Homo sapiens: one gene and its partner. The protein of the gene in region 2 interacts with the protein of the main gene of each other region in a biochemical or structural test. Each region holds a gene or a part of one and is shown on either strand. Other genes may lie near its edges.

Region 1 (3,811 bases), on a different chromosome or scaffold from region 2:
AGGCCAGGTGCGGTGGCTCACACCTGTAATCCCAGCACTGTGGAAGGCCGAGGTGGGTGGATTATTTGAGGTCAGGAGTCCCAGGCCAGCCTGGCCAACATGGTGAAACCCCGTTTCTACTAAAAATACAAAAATTAGCTGGACGTGGTGGCAGGTGCCTGTAGTCCCAGCTACTTGGGAGGCTGAGGCAGGAGAATCACTTGAATCCAGGAGGTGGAGGTTGCAGTGCCACTGCCCTCCAGCCTGGGCAACTCTGTCTCCAAAAAAAAAAAAAAAAAAAAGAGAGAGACATTTAGATTCAATTTATCCTAGGTGTTTTAGTTATTTTCTCGATGATCTTGTCTATCAAATGCTTTCTTGCAAGCTTAGTGTAAAACTAATTCAGAGTAGGCTCTTACCCAAATAAATTTCAAAATGGTAGATTAATGAGGTTTTACTTAACTAAATCAGTAACCACTAAGTTAGGGAATAGACATATATTGGAAGAATGTACATATAAGTCACGAAATCTGTTTAAAACAAGAAAGTACAGGATAGAAAAATAAATTAAAAATTTTCACAATATAAGAGAGACTGCTCACAGCTGGGCATGGTGGCTCAAGCCTATAATCCTAGCACTTTGGGAGGCCAAGGCAGGCGGATCACTTGAGCTCAGGAGTTTGAGACCACCCTGGGAAACATGGCAAAACCCTGTCTCTACCAAAAAAAACAAAAAAATTAGCCAGGGGTGCTGGTGCATGCTTGTAGTCTCAGCTACTTGAGGGGCTGAAGGATCATTTGAGCCCAGGAGGTCAAGGCTGCAGTGAGCCATGATTGCACCACTGCACCCCAGCCTGGGTGACAGAGTGAGACCCTGTCTCAGAAAAAAAAAAAGAGAGAGAGAGACAGATTGTTCACTCACAGAAATTCCAAAGCATGAAAGGCCTTCAAAAGCATGAAAGACTTTTCCTGTGAATAAGAATTCTCAAGCATAGAACCATGAAACTTAGAAAGCACCAGAAATATGCTTTCCTCTAAAACTAAGTAACAAAATAATTCCCAATCCTTCCTTGTTACACTAGTGATGTTATAATACTAATGCACTAACCTCTAACTCCTTCTCATCAAATGTCTTCAGCAGATGTTGTGGAATTACTTCATTAAATCCTTTCTGCAGAGCCAAGAATTGAGCCTCAATGCCTCGTAAAAATCTCCAGTTCACATAGAGCCTGTAAACATTCGGCAGGATTTCGTATAATCACATGTATTTTCAGATCTGGTAATTATTATTATAAATCTCTACTTTAGCAACACCGCATCTTACAAGCATCTAACATTAACGGTTTAGCCTCAAGTCTAACAATAAATCTCAGACTAATGGGGATAAATGAACCCTGAGGTGTGACACAGTTCAATGTTGATGAAAAGTGGTAAACTACTAACAAAAGCAGCATCAGCAGAGCAACCCTTCAAATCAGAGAAGCTCCCAGGAAACAGGACGTCTACTAGAGCTGAGTCTTGATGAAATTTCTTTCTAAACTTACAGCATACATGCCAATAACTAGAATAAAGAGCTCTTTCACTCAAAAATGACTTATTTTTCTGATTTTACTTGCAAATGTAATTTGAATGTGTTGGGTGTTTTGTTTCTATTTGAGGGAGGCCTACGGGAGAAGAGGAGGTAGAGAATCCTCATACCAAAAATGAGAAGAATAAATAGTAAAAGCCAATAGCAAGCACTTTTTGATTAAATAATCATTGTTCTCTAGAGGATATAAAAATTCTGGAAGATGTAATTTTACCAATAAAAAAATGCACTAAACTACATCTATTGTGTGAATGTACGATTTATAAGTGAATTGTTTTTATTTATCTACCCAAGAAAACTTCTCCATCTCATGCATCACAGAACTTACTCATCTGTCAAATTTGTTAACATTTCCAAATTTGGAGAAATGGTTCTCTACTTTAAGAAATAAGTTACTTAACATTATATCCTTTGGAGGACCGTATTTTTGTTTGTTGGGTTAAGGGGACAGCAAAACTGTGTAACTGTAAAAGTTTTTCTTTGAATTTTTAATCTAATAACTGTAGTTGGCAAGGGATTATTACGTGCTGTAAACACGACTGAACCCTGAAGAGTGGGATCCAGGGACTGAGTAGGACACACGAGGTCTTGAAAAGGAGACACTGCTAAGACTTAGGAAATTCTCATTTGTTCTTTTTTTATTATTTTTAATTTATATTAGGTGGAGTCTCGTTCTGTCACCCAGGCTGGAATACAGTGGTGCGATCTCAGCTCACTGCAACCTCCACCTCCCAGGTTCAAGCGGTTCTCCTGCCTCGGGCTCCAAAGTAGCTGGGATTACAGGTGCCTGCCAACACGCTTAGCTAATTTTTGTATTTTTAGTAGAGACAAGGTTTCACAATGTTGGCTAGGCTGGTCTTGAGCTCCTGACCTCAGGTGATCCACCCACCTTGGCCTCCCAAAATGCTGGGAATACAGGCATGAGCCACTGCACCCAGCCTGTTCTTTCATTTTTTTTAAGTAGAAACGTAATACATACTTTTTACGTATATAACAAAAAAATCAAACATTAACTATGGAGACAGTAAAATATGAAAGTCCATTCTTTTACCCTCTTTCTCCTTCCTATTTCCAGTCGCATCATCTCCACTCCCTCATCCTAGGCAAAAACTTTATTTGGTTGCAGCCTCCTGAACATCTTCAGTATAATCATAAAAAAACAGCCAGGCACGGTGGCTTACACCTGTAATCCCAGCACTTTGGGAGGCTGAGGCAAGCAGATCACGAGGTCAGGAGTTTGAGACCAGCCTGGCCAATATGGTGAAACCCCATCTCTGCTAATAATAAAAAAAAGTTGCCAGGTGTGGTTGTGCGTACCTGTACTCCCAGCTACTCGGGAGGCTGAGGCAGGAGAATCACTTGAACCTGGGAGGCAGAGGTGCAGTGAGCCAAGATCTTGCCACTGCACTCCAGCCTGAGCAACAGAGCGAGACTCCACCTCAAAAAAACCCAAAAAAACAAAACAAAAAACAAAAAAAAAACCATGGATTTTGTTCCTACATAATTCTTCTAAGACTTACTTTTAAAATTTGACAGCTTATGCACTTTTAAATATCCACATAATATTCTGCTGAATGTATAATATAATCATTCTTCTCTAAAACCATTTTAGTAGTGTAACTTTTTTTCACAAGTAGCATTTAATTGACCGTCTTTCCCCGTATTCGTTCAGTTACATGTGTGTTTCTGCAGAAGAGCCCTAAACACAGAGCTGCTAGTTGAAGGGCACATGCTGCTGGTATCAAACTGCTTTCCAGAAAAGCTATGCCAGTGTTCACTCCAATCAAGTGGACCTCATATTTAAACTAGGAAACATTTTAGTAAGATTTGGGAACATAATCTATACACAGAAAGTATATCATGCAAGTTTCTGTGTACATAAAGTTCAAGTTCAAACTCCCAAAACTGATTACCATAGTTCTATATTTAGAGGACTTTTTATTTCTCATAAGCCAAATTAGCCCAATACATAAAAATTCCTCAATTTTTACTTTATGAAATCTGAAAAACATTTATTTACATTTATCCCTAAACTCACAATGTGCTCATTTATAAACAGGCTAAGTGTTAGTAAGATAAAGCACAAAAGCCCTTCTGAATTGCCACCTGTGATAGCTACACCACATGTGGCCCCAGTGCCCACATCTCCTGGTATTCACACATTTGTACAGCTCCTCCTCCATGATGAAACTGGGCTGGCTGTCTCAGTTTAACCAGAAGTAGACAGCAGAAGTCATGTTGGCC
Region 2 (3,811 bases):
CTTTGTGTGTGTGCGTTTGTGTGTGCACATATGTACGTGTGCATGCCTGTGTGTATTGGGAGGCGCTGGCGTAGGGCCTGGGCATGTGGCTCACACAGGCTTGGGGAGGTGGACATGGAACAGTAGTTAGTTATGTTGCTGGTTTTATGGACGCCTGGGAGGAAGGACATTGTCTGAGCCTCCGTCTGTATCAGGTGGGGCTTGCCATCCCACTCCCAGACCCCCCCGAGTGCCGTGGTGACCCCTCTTGCCCGCCCACAGGGAAGAAGGCCGTGCTGGGTTCCAGTCCTTTCCTGTCCGAGGCCAATGCAGAGCGGATCGTGCGCACGCTCTGCAAGGTGCGTGGTGCGGCACTCAAGCTGGGCCAGATGCTGAGCATCCAGGGTGAGTGGGCGCGGGGGCTGCTGCCCCGGGACTGCGTGGGCTGCTGGGGGGGTCAACTTCCAGGGCCGGGAGCAGTGGCCCCACCAAAGCTCAGTGGGCAAGATGTGAGCAGGCTGGGGAGAGATCTTAGAAGATAATAGGCCTGGTCTCCAGACGGGTGGCTCTGGGTCCAAAGAAACACATGGAATAAAGAGCAGAGAGGAAAAATTGCTCTCTACAGGTGGTCAGAACACAGGTCATTTCAACATTTTACTATGTTTTATTTTCCAAATTTCTTTTGTAATTATGAAAAACTCTGCATGTTGAGTGTAAAAAGCCCACCTTCTCAGGTCACTGGGCGGAGGCTGGGGCTCCCGGGAAGCTGAGTGGCCGAGGGCGTGTGTGCGAGGGCTCCTGTCTTTCTGGCCTCACCCGTGCTCCTGGTGGGGAGGGTGTGGTGGCCAGGGCATCCCAGGAGTGTGCCCGCCCAGGTCCTGGGCGCACACTTTAATCCCCAGGTTCGCCCTGTGTCATTCTCCTGCCTTCCAGATGATGCCTTTATCAACCCCCACCTGGCTAAGATCTTCGAGCGGGTGCGGCAGAGCGCGGACTTCATGCCACTGAAGCAGATGATGGTGAGGAGCCAGGGGCTCTGCCCACTCTCTGTGGCCTCGGCCCCCACTGGGTGGAGGGGACAGACTTGGGGCTTCTCCCGGTGGCCCAGGCAGGGCATGCTCAGAGCCCCTCCCTGGCCCTGCCCTTCAGAAAACTCTCAACAACGACCTGGGCCCCAACTGGCGGGACAAGTTGGAATACTTCGAGGAGCGGCCCTTCGCCGCCGCATCCATTGGGCAGGTGCACTTGGCCCGAATGAAGGGCGGCCGCGAGGTGGCCATGAAGATCCAGGTAGGCGGCCTGATGCGCAGTGCCTGTCCCTATGGGGGCTGCAAGGGGCAGAGCTGGGGCCTGGCTCATGGAGGCCTCTACACCCCACGTCCCGCAGGGCACCCTCTCTCCTGGCAGGGCCATATGTGGTGTCTTCTGGCCCCAGTGCCTGGACGGCACCAGAAGCTTGGGAAGTATTTGCTAAATGAGTGACTTTGGGGGCACAGAGGGGCCCCCAGCAAGCTTGATTTGGGGTGGGCAAGGACAGGGGACAAGTGATTGCTTTTTGGGGCCAGAGCTGGTGGGAGGGTGGCCGTGAGCTGTTCCCAGGGGTGAGGTGAGGCAGGAGTAGGTGGACAACGAGGCTGTGATGGGGTCCAGGTCACGGCAGCATGGCTGGGTCTTAGCTCTGGTTCTCCAGGGTGTGGGCTGGGGCCAGGACACAGCTGGGAAGCCAGTTGGGGGTTGGGGGAGTGCCCCAGGCAGGGCCCACCCGTCTCCCTGGGCTAACTCCCCTGCCTCACCCATACCCCCACAGTACCCTGGCGTGGCCCAGAGCATCAACAGTGATGTCAACAACCTCATGGCCGTGTTGAACATGAGCAACATGCTTCCAGAAGGTCTGAGGCTAGGTGGTTGGGTCAAGGGCAGGAGTGGGTGGCAGGCATCTGTGTTGGGTTCTGGGGACCAGAGGGGGTCCTCCCTGCAGAGCCCCCTTCCTCGCTGATGCCCTCCTCCCTGGCCCAGGCCTGTTCCCCGAGCACCTGATCGACGTGCTGAGGCGGGAGCTGGCCCTGGAGTGTGACTACCAGCGAGAGGCCGCCTGTGCCCGCAAGTTCAGGTGTGGCCCCCGGCCGGGCCCCTTGCGTGTTTGCACCAGGGAGGCAGAAGGGACCATGTTCAGCAGCTGGTGAAGGCCCCTCCAGCTCTGAGGGGCAGAGGGCTGGGGTTGCAGCCTGGGCCGAGGCCATATCCTGCCTGGGGTGAAGGAGGGCCCTCTGCCTGGTTGGGGGGTGTGTGTGGGGGGGGGGACGGTGTGGAGGGCCTGTGGCTAGGGCGTGACCTCCCTCCCCTACCCAGGGACCTGCTGAAGGGCCACCCCTTCTTCTATGTGCCTGAGATTGTGGATGAGCTCTGCAGCCCACATGTGCTGACCACAGAGCTGGTGTCTGGCTTCCCCCTGGACCAGGCCGAAGGGCTCAGCCAGGAGATTCGGAACGAGGTTTGTCTGTGCCAGCAGACAGGTGGGGCCAGGGTGGCCCTGCTGTGTGGCTGTTTGGTGACCTAATAGTGTGAGCTGGGGACTTGGAGCCCTGAGGTGCTCCCTGGGGGTGAGGGGCAGTGAAGTAGCACCAGTGGGACTTAGGGGGACACAGGGGAGCTGCTGCCTTCCCTGGCCCAAGTAACACTGGGAATCAAACAGTCCCTAGGGTAGGGTGGGTAAAACAGGAGGCAGGGGCTTCTCTGGCCCCAGTCTCCCAGGGCACCAGGCAGTGTGGTGCTGCCTGACACAGACCCTTCGCGCTGTCCACAGATCTGCTACAACATCCTGGTTCTGTGCCTGAGGGAGCTGTTCGAGTTCCACTTCATGCAAACAGACCCCAACTGGTCCAACTTCTTCTATGACCCCCAGCAGCACAAGGTGAGCCCCAGGGTGGGGGCACCCGCAGCCAGGCCTGAGAGCTTCTCCGAATGGGGCACGTGAGGCCCTGGACTGCCCCTTGTCCTGGGAAAGTCAGCAGAGAGCTCAGGGCTCTGGGAGTGGGGATCCTCACTGCCCTCTGTTGCACCCCCTTCCCGGCCCCACACACCCGCACCATGGAGCACCAGGGCCAAACTTCTCCTGGTGTCTCTGTCCCCAGGTGGCTCTTTTGGATTTTGGGGCAACGCGGGAATATGACAGATCCTTCACCGACCTCTACATTCAGGTAACTGGAGAGGGGCCCTGGCCTTGGTCCATGTTTTTCTGAGGCTGGGACAGGATGCTGGGGGACTCGGGGTAGGGAGAATGACTGGGTTCCTGCCCTTGTGTCCCCATCTGCGCTGCCTGCCCCTCAGGTCTGGTGACAGCAGGCAGTTAGGCTGACAGCTGCCAGGCGTGGTGTCACAGCACTGGCCGGGGGCCCTGTGCAGGGAGAGGATGAGGGTGGGGTGGGCTCGGGTGTGGCACTTGGCTCCCTGGGATGTCGGGAGCTGAGCTTTTCATGCTGCCCACGGTCCCCTCCTGTGCCTCTCCCCAGATCATCAGGGCTGCTGCCGACAGGGACAGGGAGACTGTGCGGGCGAAATCCATAGAGATGAAGTTCCTCACCGGCTACGAGGTCAAGGTGAGCAGGGTTGCGGGGGATCCCCTGGGCCTGCTGACCCAGGGCCCGGCTCCCTGTGTAAGAATGGATGAAAGCACAGGGGGCAGCTGCCCTCAAGGGGCCCCCAGAGCCCGGGCCTCCTTGGGCACGGTCTGAAAGCTGGGGCCCACCCCGGCCCATGCTGCCCTGCTGAGCGTGAGATTTTCCGAGTGGGCCAGTGAGTTGGGGACTTGTCGTGAAGCTCTTGTTTCTGCCTC

The links.
Region 1: the proteins of COQ8A (region 2) and SMURF2 interact in a surface display test, tested with the Homo sapiens proteins (one large-scale study listed by IntAct).

The regions. Positions count from the first base shown.
Region 1 is NC_000017.11:64,550,497-64,554,307, forward strand, and holds part of SMURF2 (E3 ubiquitin-protein ligase SMURF2), read right to left. Parts: intron 1,209-3,811; coding exon 1,088-1,208; intron 1-1,087. UniProt on the Homo sapiens protein: E3 ubiquitin-protein ligase which accepts ubiquitin from an E2 ubiquitin-conjugating enzyme in the form of a thioester and then directly transfers the ubiquitin to targeted substrates.
Region 2 is NC_000001.11:226,981,766-226,985,576, forward strand, and holds part of COQ8A (atypical kinase COQ8A, mitochondrial), read left to right. Parts: intron 1-261; coding exon 262-384; intron 385-912; coding exon 913-998; intron 999-1,128; coding exon 1,129-1,269; intron 1,270-1,786; coding exon 1,787-1,868; intron 1,869-1,995; coding exon 1,996-2,089; intron 2,090-2,328; coding exon 2,329-2,470; intron 2,471-2,782; coding exon 2,783-2,890; intron 2,891-3,110; coding exon 3,111-3,176; intron 3,177-3,488; coding exon 3,489-3,575; intron 3,576-3,811. UniProt on the Homo sapiens protein: Atypical kinase involved in the biosynthesis of coenzyme Q, also named ubiquinone, an essential lipid-soluble electron transporter for aerobic cellular respiration.